Homo sapiens: one gene and its partners. The protein of the gene in region 5 interacts with the protein of the main gene of each other region in a biochemical or structural test. Each region holds a gene or a part of one and is shown on either strand. Other genes may lie near its edges.

Region 1 (3,520 bases), on a different chromosome or scaffold from region 5:
AGCAATCTGGAAAACCCTGAACCGCCCTGTACACACAGGGGTTGTCATCTAATCAGGAAGGGAATCTGAGTGCAGCTGGGGAAACTTAACTCTTTGACAACCAGTTCCCGTTTCCATCAGCTGCTCAAGTTCCTGGTGAAACCAATGCCACTGTGTCCTGTGAGGCACTAACCTGGCCCGCCCTGCTGTCTGTCCTCCAGTTCAGTTTTCTTTCCACTGGATAAGTGGCTTTCACCTTCACTGTGCATCTGAGCATTTGGAGGAATTATTATAAAGGTCCTTTCGCTCAGACCTCCTAGTCAAGAGTCTAAGTGGTCGAGCCTATGAATCTAAATTTTTACATGCACCCAGAAGCCCAATCAGGTCTGAGAACACTGCACTTCTCAACAGAGCAGAAGATAAGCAGCAATTTATTCATCTATTTCTACAGAAGCTTCTGTTTATAAAGCACTGGCTACATGCTTTAGTAAGAGATAAAAATATACACAATCTCTAATATCACAAGCTCTCGAAAACAACATCTACCCAGAGTAGAGGTAAACATTGTTTAAAAAGTGTTGGGTGGCAGTGGTTCATGAGGCAGCGTCTAGATGAAATGCAAATGTACAGATCATGACGGTCAGCCTTTAGAGAAAGGAGAGCGCCTCATGGGAGGGATGGTCAGGAAAGGCTTTCTTGGAGGCGTGACTGGCTCCTTGAATATTGAGAATATTGAGAAGGGTAAGAGCAACAGTAGGAGAGTCCTAGGCCCATGAAAGGAATTAGGAGCCTATGGGGCACCTGGGCATTGGTTCCTGGGTGGCAGGTGTGGATCAGGGTCAGATCCCTGTATAGCTATTGGAAACAGAAGTCCGGTTCCCAAATTGATAGAATTACCACAGAGGGCGGTAGGAATATATGGTGGTGGTGATTAACCTTTTTGTATTCTAAAAACTAGTTTGAGCCTGGGTAACATGGCGAAACCCTGTCTACGAAAAATATAAAAATCACCCTGGCATGGTGGCATATCCCTGTAGTCCCAGCTGTTCAGGAGGCTGCGGTGGGAGGATGGCTTAAGCGCAGGAGAACAGAAGTTGCAGTGAGCCGAGATCATGCCTCCGTACTCCAGCCTGGGTGACAAAGCGAGACCTTGTCTCAAAAAAAAAAATTAATTTGAAACTGCTGAGGATATGGACCCTATCCCTAGCAAATACACATCCCCACCAAAGACATGTGTTGACAATTTCTGAGGATACCCCTGAAGCCCCATCCTTGGATCCCACCAGATAAAGAACCCCAGTTCCTCTCTGAGGTCATACAGGCCAATTTGCAATACTGCACATCCTCCCTACTCAAAGGGAGAGAGGTTGAGGGGTGTGCTGGTTCCTTTTGAAACTGCCCCCATGATGTGTTCACTGTGTACTCCTGGTCAGCACTTGGGGAAGTTCCCTCTGCCTGCTTCTTTCTTAGGACTTCTAAAACATCAGCCAGGCCGGGCGTGGTGGCTCACGCCTGTAATCCCAGCAGTTTGGGAGGCCGAGGCAGGTGGATCACCTGAGGTCGGGAGTTCGAGACCAGCCTGGCCAACATGGAGAAACCCTATCTCTACTAAAAAATACAAAATTAGTCAGGTGTGGTGGTGCATGCCTGTAATCCCAGCTACTCAGGAAGCTGAGGCAAGAGAATCACTTGAACCCGGGAGGCGGAGGTTGCGGTGAGCCAAGATCGCACCATTGCACTCCAGCCTGGGCAAAAAGAGTGAAACTCCGTCTCAAGAAAACAAAACAAAATAAAAACATCAGCCAACTGTGGGCATTTTCCTTCACAGATAACTGCGACCTCCACTTCAAGGTGGCCCGAGATCGGAGTAGTGGCTATCCGCTCACAATTGAGGGCTTTGCATACCTGTGGTCAGGAGCCCGTGCCAGCTATGGGGTCAGAAGGGGCCGTGTATGCTTCGAGATGAAGGTGAGTAGGAGCAAGAGAAGGGGAAGGGACAGAGAAGTCCATCCATTGTAATATCCTGATACCAGCCACCTTGGTCAGAGCTGCAACTGCAAAAGAGATTGGATTGTGCAATACCATGTCCAAGCAGACAAAACTGTGATGAACTCAAGACAACTACATCATTGCTAAATATCATATCAGAAAAGCAGGCCAACCATGCATTGCTTCATCAAGCAGATATTTCCTTGGTGAGATTTGACCCAGGTATTATGTAGTCAACCAGTGTAGTGATGACATGTTTGTAGAACTGAGAAAAGAAGTTGTTTGGAAGAAAAGTGATCTAGAAAGAATAGACTCAGATGTCACTTATTAAAGGGAGGCCAGAGGGAGAACAGGGCAAAGAACTGCCAGCTTAGGCCAGCCTCTGCTGTCATCTCTCCACAGTTCCATGTCAAGTTATGTTTATGAAAATAATAGATGCTCATGTTTAACAAAAGTTCAGACAGCACAGAAAAGTACAGGATAAAACAGGTTATTCTCGCCAGGTGTGGTGGCTTTTGCCTGTAATCCCAGCACTTTTGGGAGGCCAAGGCAGGTGGATCACAAGGTCAGGAGTTCAATACCAAACTGGCCAAGATGGTGAAACCCTGTCTACTAAAAATACAAAAAAATTAGCCGGGCATGGTGGCGGGTGCCTGCAATCCTAGCTATTCAGGAGGCTGAGGCAGAGAATTGCTTGAACCCAAGAGGCAGAGGTTGCAGTGAGCCGAGATCACGCCACTGCACTCCAGCCTGGGTGACAGAGTGAGACTCTGTCTCAAAAAAAAAAAACAAAAAAACAAAAACAAAAAAAACAAAACAGGTTATTCTCATGTCCTCTCAGTTCCCATCCTACCATCCTACTCCCTGGAGGGAACTTCTGTGTTAACAATTTCTTACCTGTGGTTTGTGTATCCAAACTTACTGATGATAGCTAATAAGTATAGAGCTCTTTGCATGCACAAGATACAGCACCAAGCTCTTTACATGGATTATCTCCATTAATCCTCACAGTACCATCTGGAAACAGGTACTGTTAGCCCCAGTTTTTAGAGGTAGAAGCTGAAACACAGAGGGTTATATTTTATTGACCACGACACCATTGATGTAAGTTGTGCATTATTTTATGTACCTCTCATAGAGAAACACTGCAACAAAATAAACTACGCAGTGTTTTCTTTTTTTGTTTGTTTGTTTTTTTGTTTTTGAGATGGAGTTTCACTCTTGTTGTCCAGGCTGGAGTGCAGTGGCGCGATCTCGGCTCACTGCAACCTCTGCCTCCCGGGTTCAAGCAATTATCCTGCCTCAGCCTCCCCAGTAGCTGGGATTACAGGCATGTGCCACCCTGCCCGGCTAATTTTTGTATTTTTAGTAGAGATGGGGTTTCTCCATGTTGATCAGGCTGGGCTTGAACTCCTGAGCTCAGGTGATCTGCCTGCCTTGGCCTCCCAAAGTGCTGGGATTACAGGCGTGAGCTGCCGCACCCAGCATACGCAGTGCTTTCTCATCACATTTATTGTAAAATGGATCCTGATTTCAGAGATTTTAAAATGTG
Region 2 (3,520 bases), on a different chromosome or scaffold from region 5:
ATGATCATGCCACTACACTCCAGTCTAGGCAACAGCACAAGACCCTGTCTCTGTCTCTTTTAAAAAAATTATTCTTTGTATAGAGATGGGGTCTCACTATGTTGCCCAGGCTGATCTCACACTCCTGGGCTCAACCGATCTGCCTGCCTCAGCCTCCAAAGTCCTGGGACTGCAAGCGTGAGCCACCATGCCCAGCTGACCCTGTCTCTTATTTTATTTTATTTTTTTTGGCGGGGGAGATGCAGTTTCGCTCTTGTTGGCCAGCCTAGAGTGCAGTGGCACAATCTTGGCTCACTGCAACCTCTGCTTCCCAGGTTCAAGCGATTCTCCTGCCTCAGCCTCCCGAGTAGCTGGGATTACAGGCATGTGCCACCATGCTCAGGTAATTTTCGTATTTTTTAGTAGAGACAGAGTTTCACCATGTTGGCCAGGCTGGTCTCGAACTCCTGACCTCAAGTGATCCACCTGCCTCGGCCTCCCAAAGTGCTGGGATTACAGGCGTGAGCCACCGCACCCAGCCCCCCGTCTCAAATAAAAAAAAAAAAAAAGTTGAGGGAGGGGCTGGCATGATGGCTCACATCTATAATTCCAACACTTTGGGAGGCCAAGGCGGGCAGACCACTTGAGCCCAAGAGTTTGAGATCAGCCTGAGCAGCCTGGCGAAACTCTGTCTCTACAAAAAATACAAAAATTAGCCAAGCTTGGTGGTATGTGCCTGTAGTCCCAGCTACTTGTGAGGCTGAGATGGGAGAATCACTTGAGCCCAGCAGGTTGAGGCTGCAGTGAGCCATATATGTGCCACTGCACTCCAGCCTGGGCCACAGAACAAGACCCTGTCTCAAAAAGCAACAATAATAAAGGATGAGTTTGACCTTCTCTCACTCTCTCTCACCATGTGATGCCTTTCTTGATGTCACCATGCAGCAAGAAGGTCCTCAACAGCCCCTTGATCTTGGACATAACCTCAAGAACTATGAGCCAAATAAATTTCTGTTCATTATATATTACCCAACAGGTCATACTCTGTTATGGCAGCACAATAGGGACTAAGACAGCTTCCTAGAGACCTTCCATGAGATTCTAATTTATTTTCTTACCCTACCCTTCCCCATACCTTTCACATACTCTGCTTCAGTCACACCAGAACCCTGCAATCTCCAGAACTTGCCTTGTACTGACACCTCTTTCTCTACCTAGGAAACATCTCTTCCCAAATTCTATACATCTCCTAAGACACTTCTTCCAAAAGCTTTTCCCAATTTCCTCTACATTCTGAAATCAGCTATTATATGCCTCTATCATCAGTCACACTGTATTTTGATTCATACTTATAACATATCTCATCTGACTCAGCCAAGTCCGTATTTCCAGCATCTGCCATACAATAAACACTAACTGTTTGGGCCAGGTGTGATGGCTCATTCCTGTATTCCCAGTGCTTTGGGAGGCCAAGGCAAGCAGATCACTTGAGGTCAGGAGCTCGAGACCAGCCTGGCCAACATGGTGAAACCCAGTCTCTACCAAAAATACAAAAAATTAGCCAGGTGTGGTAGTGCGTGCCTGTAGTCCCAGCTACTCAGGAGGCTGAGGCAGAAGGATCCCTTGAACCCAGGAGGTGGAGGCTGCAGTGAGCCGAGATGGTGCCACTGTACTCTAGCCTGGGTGACAGCAAGAGACTCTATTTAAAAAAATAAATAAAATAAAATAAAAATAAAACACTAATTGTTCAGATTCAGTTTAATGCAGAATTGAATTTTTTTTTATTATTATACTTTAAGTTTTAGGGTACGTGTGCACAATGTGCAGGTTAGTTACATATGTATACATGTGCCATACTGGTGTGCTGCACCCATTAACTCGTCATTTAGCATTAGGTATATCTCCTAATGCTATACCTCCCCGTTCCCCCCACCCCACAACAGTCCCCAGAGTGTGATGTTCTCCTTCCTGTGTCCATGTGTTCTCATTGTTCAATTCCCATCTATGAGAGAGAACATGTGGTGTTTGGTTTTCTGTCCTTGCAATAGTTTACTGAGAATGATGACTTCCAATTTCATCCATGTCCCTACAAAGGATATGAACTCATCATTTTTTATGGAATGCAGAATTGAATTTTCTGCAAAGTTGGAGAATGGTTTTAAATTAACACTCTTGTAGCTTGAAATATGATCTATATGGTGTCAACACCCAAATTTATAGCTCCAGCCACAAATCTCCCCTGAAAGTAGACTAATAGCTAAAAGCCTATTCAATATCTCTACCTGACACAAATATATTCCAACTTTAATTCCTGGACTTCCTTCCAAATCTGCTCCATCCACATTCTTACCTATCTCAGTTAATAGCAACTCCATCCTTCCAATTGTTTGGCAAAAAAACTTTAAATTATCCTTCTCTCCTCTTTATCTTGCATCCCATATATCCTATCTTTCAGTAAATCATGCAGTCCCCACCTTTAAGGTATAAAAGCACATCTCATTTCACTGCACTTCGTTTTACACAGCTTTTTGCAAGCTAAGGGTCTGCGGCAACCCTACATCAAGCAGGTCTATCAGCACCATTTTTCCAACAACAATGTGCTGTCTTTGTGTCACATTTTGGTGATTCTCGAAATATTTCAAACTTTTTCATTTTTATTACGTCTGTTATACTGATCTGTGATCAGTGATCTTTGATGCTACTACTGTAATTGTTTTGAGACACCATGAATCGTGGCCATATAAGATGGTGAACTTTATAAATGCTGTGTATGTTCTAACTGCTCTACCAACCGGTGGTTCTCCTCTCCCTCTCCTCAGGCCTCCCTATCCTCTGAGACGCAATATTCAAAAGTAGGCCAATTAATAACCCTATCATGGTCTCTAAGTGTTCAAGCAAAAGGAAGAGTCACATGTCTCTCATTTTAAATCGAAAGCCAGAAATGATTAAGCTTAGTGAGGAAGACACGTTGAAAGCTGATACAAGCCAAAAGCCAGGCCTCTTGTGCCAAACGGCTAGCCAAGTTGTGAATGCAACTACTGAGAAAGGGTCTCACTGTCAGCCAGGCTGGAATATAAAGGTGCAGTCATAGCTCATTGCAGCCTCAAACTCCTGGGCTCAAGGGATCCTCCTGCTCTGCCCTCCTGAAGTGCTGGGATTACAGTCGTGAGCCACCGTGTCTGGATGAAAAGTTCTTGAAAGAAATCCACAGTGATTCATAGATAGTGATTCCTCTAATGGATCTGAGCAAAGTAGATTAAAAACCTTCTAGAAAGGAGGTTTTGATTCACTATTCAAGATACCATTAAGAACATTCATGATTTATGGAAGGAGGTCAAAAGATCAACATTAACAGGAGTTTGAAAGAAGAAATTCCAACCCTCATAGACGATTTTGAGGAATTCAAGACTTCAGTGGAGGAAGTCACCTCAGATGTAGTAGAAACTGCAAGAGAACTACAATTAGAAGTGGAGGGGCCAGGCGCAGTGGCTCACGCCTATAATCCCAACACTTTGGGAGGCTGAGGTGGGTGGATCACGAG
Region 3 (3,520 bases), on a different chromosome or scaffold from region 5:
CTGGCTAACATGGTGAAACGCCATCTCTACTAAAATCCAAAAAAAAAAAAAAAAAAAAAGCCAGGCATGGTGGCACACACCTGTAGTCCCAGCTACACAGGAGGCTAAGGCAGGAGGATCACTTGAACCCAGGAGGTCAAGGTGGCAGTAAGCAGTGATCACACCACTGCACTCCAACCTGGGTAACAGAGCAAGACCCTATCTCAAAAAAGAAAAAAAAAAAAAAAGTGGGTATTTTCAGCATTTTCTGGCAAAAGTGGGAAAATATTGGGTCCTGAAATGTATATGGAACTATTTTTTACAGGTGATCATAAGGTCCACAGATTATTAGATGGCATGTCAAAAAATCCTTCAGGGAAAAACAGAGAAACTGTTCCAATTAAAGATAATTTCGAATTAGAGGTACTTCAGGCACAATACAAAGAACTTAAAGAAAAGGTAAGTGACTTAACTTGTGGTTTTTGTAGCTAATTCATTCACTTACGTGTTTAAAAGCATTGTACAGTAAAATATACAAAAGTTGTAAAACAAGTGTCTAGATTCATCCCTATGACATGGGAAAAGACTAGGGAAAGAAAACCAGAAAGTTTAGGCTGAAAGAAACTAAATTGTGAGATTCCTAATGCCAAAGGCAAGAAGAAAAACACTGTATACCAGATCCAAAAAGAGATACAAACTGTTAGGGTACTAAGATGAATTTATAGCATGTATCTTCATGTGAATAATACAACTTCATAATGGTTGCTATTTTCATTAGCAGCTTTGCAAGAAAGCAGACACTTCATATCACCATCTGTAGGTCCCTAAGAAAACCAGGAATATGTGGAATTTTAGTTGTGCAAGGTATGTGACCCAGATTTTTTTTTTTTTTTTTTTTGGAGATGGAGTCTGTCATCCAGGCTGGAGTACAGTGACACAATCTTGGCTCACTTCAACCTCTGCCTCCTGGTTTTAAGCGATTCACATGCCTTAGCTTCCAGAGTAGCTGGGACTACAGGTGTGCACCACGACGCCCAGCTAATTCTTGTATTTTTAGTAGAGACGGAGTTTCACCATGTTGGCCAGGCTGGTCTCAAACTCCTGGCCTCAGCCTCCCAAAGTGTTGGGATTACAGGCATGAGCTACCACACCCAGCGACCCAGATCGTTAATGCCTCTTAGAGCCTAAAGAATCCGGCCAGGCGCGGTGGCTCACACCTGTAATCCCAGCACTTTGGTAGGCCGAGGCCAGTGGATCACCTGAGGTCAGGAGTTCAAGACCAGCCTGGCCAACATGGTGAAAACCCGTCTCTACTAAAAATACAAAAATTAGCTAGGCATGGTGGCGGGCACCTGTAATCTCAGCTACTCGGGAGGCTGAGGCAGGAGAATTGCTGGAACCTGGGAGGTGAAGGTTGCAGTGAGCCGAGATCGTGCCATTGCACTCCAGCCTAGGCGACAATAGCAAGACTCCGTCTCAAAAAAAAAAAGGAATCTGGTCAGGCAAGGTGGCTCATGCCTGTAATCCCAGCACTTTGGGAGGCCAAGGTGAGAGAATCGCTTGAACCCAAGAGTTCAAGACCAGCCTGGGCAATACAATGAGACCCTGTCTCTACAGATAAAAGTGAAAATTGGCCAGGCTAGTGGCACATGCTTTGTAGTCCTAGCTACTCAAGAGGTTGAGGCGAGAGGATCACTTGAGCCCAGGAGTTCAAGGTTACATTGAGCTATGATTGTGCCACAGCATTCCAGCCTAAGCAACCCCATCCCCCTCCCTGGCAAAAAGAATCTGCATGCATGAGTGGCAAGTGTATGCTTAAGCTATCTTGATGAATATCAGCTGTCCCATGAACAGGCCTAGCAGACCATGGTGACATCTGGTTGCTGTGGATATATTTTGAGTACTCATTTGTCTGTTTTTCCTGTGCTTTCTCCATCTCCCCAACTACATGTTAAAACAAAGTACCTAAGTAGTTTTCTCTTACAAAGTTTTCACGAGATTAATTTGGGATTTACAGATGAAAGTAATGGAAGAAGAAGTTCTCATTAAGAATGGAGAAATTAAAATTTTGCGAGACTCACTACATCAGACGGAATCCGTTCTAGAGGAACAGAGAAGATCACATTTTCTTCTTGAGCAAGAGAAAACCCAAGCACTCAGTGACAAGGAAAAGGAATTCTCCAAAAAGGTGACCCAGAGCATTTGTTTTGCACCAGCTTTGCCTGCCCACTGAGTTCCTTTGACCAGGGTTGCCTGTAAATCTTCCAGGGAGATTTCAACACTTGTTTGTCTTAAATACTTTCTGCTATCATCTCATTGCCATCCACTCTTCTTCCAGGGTCTGGATATATTTTGGAAAGGGATTTAGATGAAACTCTATTTTGCTGTGGTAGTTGGTCTTGGCAGGAGTAAATAACTAGCTTAGCATTTCTAGAAACAGGTTTACATTAAGGCTCTTTTGCTAGATCAGAAACTCAACTGACCTGGCTTAGGCTAAAAGGAAACGTATTGGCTTCCATATCCAAGTCTGGGAAGAACCGGGGTATGCTGGGACCTTAAATGACTTAAATCTTGCCAGGACATTTTTATTCTCTATGCTATAAACAGGCTCTATACTTATGGTAGAGGGTGTGTTCTCCAGAAGCTCCTGGGCTCATATTTTATAAATACAGAGCAGAATTAAGACTTAGGGCCACATGCAGTGGCTCACACCTATAATCCAGCACTTTGGGAGGCTGAGGTGAGAGGATTACTTGAGCCAGGAGTTCGAGACCAGCCTGGGCAACTAGTGAGACCTCATCTCCACAAAAAAGAAAAAGAAAAAATGAACAAAATTATCCAGGCATGGTGGTGTGCACCTGTAGTCCCAGCTACTCAGGAGGCTGAGGTGGGAGAATTGCTTGAGCCCAGGAGGTTGAGGCTGCAGTAAGCCATGATCATGCCATTGTACTCCAGCCTGGGCAATAGAGCGAGACCCTGTTTCAAAAAAAGACTTAGGCTCCCTCATCTCAAGTTTTAAAATTCTGAGAAAGGCTCTGATTGGTTTAACTTGAGTCAGTTGTCTGTCCCTGGCCAATTGCTATAACCAAAAGCAACCAAAAGCAAAAAAATGACAGCTCCCATTCTAATAAAATAGTCAGAGGTAGGGAAATTATTGAATTTTTTTTTTTTTTTTTTTTTTTTTGAGACAGGGTCCAGGGTTTCACTCTCTTGCCCAGGCTGGAGTGCAGTGGTGCAATCACAGCTCACTGCAGCCTTGACCTCCCAGGCTCAAGCAATCCTCCCATCTCAGCCTCCCAGGTAGCTGGAACTATAGGCACACACCACCAGGCAAAGCTAATTTTTAAATTTTGGTACAGACAGGGTTTTGCTGTATTCTCCAAGCCGTTCTCAAGCTCCTGGGCTCATGCAGTCCTCCCACCTTGGCCTTCCAAAGTGCTGAGATTACAGGCGTGAGCCACAATGCCCAGCCTGTTTCTCAGGGAAAGGAAAATGCTATTCTGGAAGGAAAAACAGTAGGTATCCAGTACCTACTACAACT
Region 4 (3,520 bases), on a different chromosome or scaffold from region 5:
AATCCATCCCCATGATCTTACCCTGGGAGCTTGTCCACTATCCTGTTGTCAGTCTACCTACCTATTCCCAATCATCTGTGGCCTTTCCTTTGCCAAGGAAGTCTATTCAATTGGAAAAGAATCCCCTGTCATGTTAGCACTTAATATTACCTGGAGGTAGGAGAAAGGAGAACTTCGTTCATCTTATTTCCTGGGGACTTAGTCCCCAGAGTGTTAATATTTCCTCCTCTCCAAGAAACTGAGGCAGATTCTGCTCTCTGTCCTCTTGGCCACTGGTTCCAAGTCTTTCTTTAGGCATGACCCTCTTTTGTTGTATATGTGTCCTTTGCTCCTTCCATGGATTCCCATGATGTGAGAGATTTTATCTGCCAAATAGTAACGTAATTTTTCCCTTCCAAATTAACAAAGCCTTCCGTAACTGTATACACTAAAGTCAGTGCCCTAAAGGTTGGGAAAATCATGTCTTCAGAGTGTACCGTGCTAAACGCTTTACATGAATTATTTTATTTAGTTTTTAAAACAATCCCATAAGGTCGGTTTTATTTACATTTTACAGAAAAGGAAACAATATTCTCAGTCACATAGTAAGTGGAAGAACCACTTATATAAAAGAAGTATATGAAAATGCATAGAAAATAATCTGGGAAATTATTTCTGGGAGATGGAGAGTGGTGAAGAGCTTTCAGTTTTTTCTCCGCCACTTCCTCTTTTTTTTTTTAGACAAAGTCTCACTCTGTCACCCAAACTGGAGTGCAGTGGCATGATATCGCTCACTGCACCCTCCGCCTCCCAGGTTCAAGTGATTCTTGTGCCCCAGCCTCCCGAGTAGCTGGGATTACAGGTGTGCACCACCACGCCCCACTAATTTTTGTATTTTTAGTAGAGACAGGGTTTCACCATTTTGGCCAGGCTGGTCTCGAACTCCTGACCTCAGGTGATCCACTCGCTGGGATTACAGGTGTGAGCCCCCATGCCTGGCCTCTCTACTTCTTTTTTTTTTTTTTTTTTTTTGAGATGGAATCTCGCTCTGTCACCCAGGCTGGAGTGTAGTGGCACGATCTCGGCTCACTGCAAGCTCTGCCTCCCAGGTTCACGCCATTCTCCTGCCTCAGCCTCCCAAGTAGTTGGGACTACAGGTGGCCGCCACCACGCCCGGCTAATTTTTTGTATTTTTAGTAGAGACAAGGTTTTACCATGTTAGCCAGGATGGTCTCGGTCTCCTGACCTCAGGTGATCCACCTGCTTCGGCCTCCCAAAGTGCTGGGATTACAGGCGTTAGCCACTGCGCCTGGCCTCCGGCCCTCTACTTTTATATTGTTTAGATTTTTAATATAAGCATATAGTTGTTTTGTAATTTCAAAAAAAAATTCTCAAAGATAAGAAAGAAAATTTGGGCTGGGTGCAGTGGCTCACGCCTCCCAGCACTTTGGGAGGCCAAGGTGGGTGAATCACCTTAGGTCAGGAGTTAAAGACCAGCCTGACCAACGTGGAGAAACCCCATTTTTACTAAAAAATGCAAAATTAGCCGGGCGTGGTGGTGCATGCCTGAAATCCCAGCTACTTGGGAGGCTGAGGGAGGAGAATCCCTTGAACCCGGGAGGCAGAGGTTGTGGTGAGGCAAGATCATGCCATTGCACTCCAGCCTGGGCAACAAGAGCGAAACTCCGTCTCAGAAAAAAAAGAAAGAAAAAATTTGGTTCTCCTAGGCCTTTAACATAAAATGTTCTAAAGGATTTTCCTCATAATTTAAATGGGAATTATGACTCCAAAGTAGATTTCTAGAGTAGAAATTACCCTTTAGCATCATTCACTTAAACTTTGTAGAAAAATTCAAAGGTATCTGGTATGGAATGGGTAGTCTAAAGCAGAGATTTCCTTGAGTGGCTCATAAGACAGTTTTCATGGCATTTCATTTACTTCTCTTTTCTTTCCTTTTTGTTTTCTCTTTAAAATTCTTTCTACTTATTTTTCTGTTTTCTCCAATTGTTCATTTTAAACATCTTGTTTATACTATTGGAGTAAATATGTTTTTTTCTTCTTTCTTGCTCACACTCGAAATTTGCTATAGACACTCCGAGGGCATTGACTAGTCCCTTTAGTACCCCTAAAGAATGAACTGCTCAATAAAGTGAAGTATAAGTTTGATATAGACATGCTAAAATTAACTGGGCTTTGGATCATGGCCCATTATTGATTAAAGCTAAGGTAAATGGTCTTCCAAGTTTCTGTACTTTTGAATTGATCAGTCTTGTGTTGGTATGCAGTTCTAGAATTTTATTACTGGCCAGGTGTGGTGGCTCACGCCTGTAATCCCAGCACTTTAAGAGGCCGAGGCGGGCAGATCACTTGAGTCCAGGAGTTCAAGACCAGCCTGGGCAATGTGGCAAAACCCTATCTATAAAAAAATTTAATCGGGTGTGGTGGTGCACACCTATGGTCTCAGCTATTTGGGAGGTGAGATGGGAGGATCTCCAGAGCCCGGAAGGCAGAGGTTGCAGTGAGCCAAGATTGCACCACTGCACTCCAGCCTGGGCGGCGGAGTGAGACCCTGTCTCCAAAACAAAAAAAGGCCAGGTGCAGTGGCTCGTGCCTATAATCCCAACACTTTGGGAGGCCAAGGCAGGCAGATCACCTGAGGTCAGGAGTTCAAGACCAGCCTAGCCAACTTGGTGAAACCCTGTTTCTACTAAAAATACAAAAATTAGCTGGGCGTGGTGGCATGGACCTTTAATCTCAACAACTCAGGAGGCTGAGGCAGGAGAGTTGCTTGAACCCAGGAGGTGGAGGTTGCAGTGAACCGAGATAACGCCACTGCACTCCAGCCTGGGCAACAGTGAGACTATCGCAAGAAAAAAAAAAAAAAGAAGAAAAGAATTTTATTACCTACTTTGGGCTATATTTCTAAGCAGTCCAGTTCTGACAGGACTAGCTGTATGTACTGAGACACAATCAGCTTTACATATTTTTCTAGCTGTATTTCTATTAATATCAGAAGGGAATGCCTCCTTCCTACCACTGTCATTTTTAAATGTTTTTTTCCCTTTGCCTTGGAGGAATTATAAAGATGTCATGAGGAGCTTGGTCAGCTGTATCAGAAATACAATGTTCATTTCTACTGTTGTTTTTGTTCTCTATAGCTTCCCATTGACCGGGGTGGAGGTGAAGGAAAGGCCATGTACATTGACACTGAGGGTACCTTTAGGCCAGAACGGCTGCTGGCAGTGGCTGAGAGGTAGGTTACTGGTTTAGATAAGAGAGACTATGGCTACACTTATCAATGTAGTGATTGCCAGGGTTAGTTTGGCCGAAGAATGTCTCTTCTATAACCCCACGTCCCAAAGTTGTATGTGTGGTTCAAAAGAATGACTTCCTTAGTAGAAAAAGGCATTCTTTTTTTTTTTTTTCTTCAGATGGAGTCTCGCTCTTGTCACCCAGGCTAGAGTGCGGTGGCGTGATCTCAGGTCACTGCAACCTCTGCCTCCCGGGTTCAAGCAACTCTCCCACCTCAGCCTTCCTAGTA
Region 5 (3,520 bases):
TTCTGAGAAGGAAAAAATTTAAAAATTACATAACTACCAAGTTATTTCTCTATAGATAACTTGTGGTTTTTGAAGGAGAACCGCATTTTTTTTTTTGAGTCAGTCTTGCTCTGTTGCCCAGAGCAACAGAGCAGTGCGCAATCTGCTGGAGTGCAGTGGCGCAATCTTGGCTCACTGCAACCTCTGTCTCCTAGGTTCAATCAATTTTTCTGTCTCAGCTTCTGGGTAGCTGGGATTACAGGCACCCAGCTCATTTTTGTATCATTAGTAGAGATGGAGTTTCATCACGTTGGCCAGGCTGGTTTCAAACTTCTGACTTCAGGTGACCCGCCAGCATTGGCCTCCCAAAGTGCTGGGATTACGGGCGTGAGTCACCATGCCCAGCCTAAAACAGTCTTTATTATCCAAATTTTCTGTAATGAATGTATTTCAAAAACAAAATACAAAACACCAAGAGGCCTTCTGCACAATTGAAAAATAAAAGGATAAAAAGTATATACTGTATTTCAGTCTATTTTATCCATGTTTATAAAGACACTTATATATATGCTGCTTTGTAAAAATTGGGTCAAATCCTGCATACCACATTGTAATATGCTTTTCTCAACAATTTATGGCAAACACTTCTTTGTGGCAATACACGCTTTTCTGTATCATTTGTAGTATGTTATAAATGTGTCATGGTTTACTTAATAATCCTTTATTGCTAGTATTTTGAGATTGCTTTATTTTTATTTATTCATTTTGAGACAGAGTCTTGCTCTGTCGCCCAGGCTGGAGTGCAGTGGCATGATCTCGGCTCACTGCAACCTCTGCCTCCCAGGTTCAAGCAATTCTCCTGCCTCAGCCTCCTGAGTAGCTGGGATTATAGGTGCGCAGAACCACGCCCGGCTAATTTTTGTATTTTTAGGAGACGGAGTTTCACCTGTTGGCCAGGCTGGATTCGAACTCCTGACCTCAGGTGATCTGCCTGCCTTGGCTTCCTAAAGTGTTGCGATTACAGGCGTGAGCCACTTCACTGGCCTAAATCTTTGTACCTGTCTTTAATTCTTTCCTTGATGTAAACTCCTAAGCTGTGGAGTTCTGCTAGGTCACCACTGTTTGTCTTTTTTTGTTTTGAGGCGCAATCTTGGCTCACTGCAAGCTCCGCCTCCCAGCTTCATGCCATTCTCCTGCCTCAGCCTCCCGAGGAGCTGGGACTACAGGCGCCTGCCACCACACCCGGCTAATGTTTTGTATTTTTAGTAGAGACAGGGTTTTACCGTGTTAGCCAGGATGGTCTTGATCTCCTGACCTCGTGATCCGCCCACCTCGGCCTCCCAAAGTGCTGGGATTACAGGCGTGAGCCACCATGCCAAGCCAAAAAGGAGCTTTATATTAATTAAAAATTTAAATGTTTGTAATATGTTGCAAATATTTTCCACATTCATTTAAACAATACTTATTCCAGGACCACTATGTGACTAGCACTGCTCTAGGTGCTAAGGCTACAGCGGTGACCAAGATAAAAATCTTTGTTCTAGGCCGGGCGTGAGGGCTCATGCCTGTAATCCAATCACTTTGAGAGGCTGAGGAGGGTGGATCACCTGAGGTCAGGAGTTTGAGACTAGCCTGGCCAACATGGCAAAACCCCATCTCTACTAAAAATACAAAAAATTAGGTGTGGTGGCGGGTGCCTGTAATCCCAGCTACTTGGGAGGCTGAGGCAGGAGAACTGCTTGAACCTGGGGCCCAGAGGCTGCAATGAGCTGAGATTGCGCCATTGCACTCCAGCCTGGGTGACAGCACAAGATTCTGTCTCAAAAAAAAAAACCAAACAAACAAACAAACAAAAAAGCAGGGGCTGGGTGTGGTGGCTCAAGCCTGTAATAATCCCAGCACTTTGGGAGGCCAAGGTAGGTGGATCACAAGGTCAGGAGTTCAAGACCAGCCTGACCAAGATGGTGAAACCCCATCTCTAGTAAAAATACAAAAATTAGCCGGGCGTGGTGGCAGGTGCCTGTAATCCCAGCTACTTGGGAGGCTGAGGCACAGGATCGCTTGAGCCCGGGATGCGGACGTTGTAGTGAGCCGAGATTCCACCACTGCACTGCCTGGGCGACAGAGTGAGACTCTGTCTCAAAAAAAACTTTGTTCTAATGGAACTTAACATTCTACTGTCTCCTGTCATTTGACTTTTAATTCTGTTTTTGGTATATTGGGAAGGTATATAGTCAAATCTACTAACCTTTTACTTTAGAGTATCTGTCTTTGATGTCTTTTTGTATTATTTTTATAAGAAAAAACTTTAAAAAGACTAAAAAAGTTCAACATCTCCACAGTTCCAAAGTAACCCCATCATGATTCAAAAACAGCCACTTACATCTGTGTCAACCCACTGGCGAACGTCCATGGGTGCAGCTGTCATGTCATCTATTTTGTAAACAATGTTGGTTGGAGCCTTCTCTGCATGTCTGATGATCCCCACAATAGTGACCTAGGTTAGAAGAAACAAAGAAAAAAAAAAAAGGTCTGGTTCCCCCTGAAACCAAGGCTACATTTTTGTATTTTTTAATGAAGTCTTATTTCATTCTTTATTATGAGTAAGTGATTCTTTCACAAATTATTTGACATACCTGTGAAATCTCAACATTCCCAATTCTGAACACTTCATCAACCAAAGTGGCAGAAAGCAGCTGAGATATAGTACAGGGCACAATGTGCTGGGCTCGGGCTCTCTGAAAAGAAAAAACATGCAAAATTCAATTAAGAAAGTAATAACTACCACTCATTCAACACCTGCCATGTGCCAAGTACTTTAAATATATTAGAACATTGAATTTCAAAACAAATCTCATTATCCTTGCTTCAGAGAGATGGAAACCAAGGTCATATAGCAAACCAATACCACACTTTTAGAATCCAAACCCAGGTTTGTCTAACTCCAGAGCTCCTGCTGAATAGATACACATGTTGCTCTGAGAATTCACCAAAATGAATAGGTCAGAGTGGGGGACAGGATAAGGAAGAATGACCTGCTGCTGCCAGAACAGACCTTCAAGAGGAAACCCCAGCTTTAGGGTGTAGACAGGCTGGTGCTGCTGTTCAGGTCACTGACAAAATGAGATGGTATTGGGAAAAGGTTTGAGAAATGACTAATGGAGACAGGACTTTGGAATTGCTTGTAGGTCTTGTGATGAACTGTAAAAGGTAGAAGAATAGCTTCTTGTAGGACAGATTTTTTGACTATCAAATGGAGCTCCTGGGGAAATGGAGTAAGAGCTTGGCCATGTTGGACATCTTTTTAAATTTTTTTTCTTTGAGACAGAGTTTCGCTCCTGTTGTCCAGGCTGGCATGCAATGGCGTGATCTCAGCTCACTGCAACCTCCGTCTCCCGGGCTCAAGCGATTCTCCTGGCTCAGCCTCCTGAGTAGCTGGGACTATATGTGCCAGCATTTTGCATTTTTAGTAGAGATGGGGTTTCACCATGTTGGCCAGGCTGGTCTGGAACTCTTGACCTCAGGTGATCTGCCCACCTCA

Evidence for each region.
Region 1: the proteins of RPA2 (region 5) and HNRNPUL1 form a complex in vitro, tested with the Homo sapiens proteins (one study listed by BioGRID).
Region 2: the proteins of RPA2 (region 5) and NUFIP1 form a complex in vitro, tested with the Homo sapiens proteins (one study listed by BioGRID).
Region 3: the proteins of RPA2 (region 5) and ATRIP form a complex in vitro, tested with the Homo sapiens proteins (one study listed by BioGRID).
Region 4: the proteins of RPA2 (region 5) and RAD51 form a complex in vitro, tested with the Homo sapiens proteins (one study listed by BioGRID).

What each region holds. Positions count from the first base shown.
Region 1 is NC_000019.10:41,274,352-41,277,871, forward strand, and holds part of HNRNPUL1 (heterogeneous nuclear ribonucleoprotein U-like protein 1), read left to right. Parts: intron 1-1,807; coding exon 1,808-1,947; intron 1,948-3,520.
Region 2 is NC_000013.11:44,982,957-44,986,476, forward strand, and holds part of NUFIP1 (FMR1-interacting protein NUFIP1), read right to left. Parts: intron 1-3,520. UniProt on the Homo sapiens protein: Binds RNA.
Region 3 is NC_000003.12:48,449,733-48,453,252, forward strand, and holds part of ATRIP (ATR-interacting protein), read left to right. Parts: intron 1-304; coding exon 305-438; intron 439-760; exon of another isoform or gene 761-843; intron 844-1,996; coding exon 1,997-2,167; intron 2,168-3,520. UniProt on the Homo sapiens protein: Required for checkpoint signaling after DNA damage. Required for ATR expression, possibly by stabilizing the protein.
Region 4 is NC_000015.10:40,715,668-40,719,187, forward strand, and holds part of RAD51 (DNA repair protein RAD51 homolog 1), read left to right. Parts: intron 1-3,137; coding exon 3,138-3,232; intron 3,233-3,520.
Region 5 is NC_000001.11:27,904,566-27,908,085, forward strand, and holds part of RPA2 (replication protein A 32 kDa subunit), read right to left. Parts: intron 2,718-3,520; coding exon 2,616-2,717; intron 2,477-2,615; coding exon 2,363-2,476; intron 1-2,362. UniProt on the Homo sapiens protein: As part of the heterotrimeric replication protein A complex (RPA/RP-A), binds and stabilizes single-stranded DNA intermediates that form during DNA replication or upon DNA stress.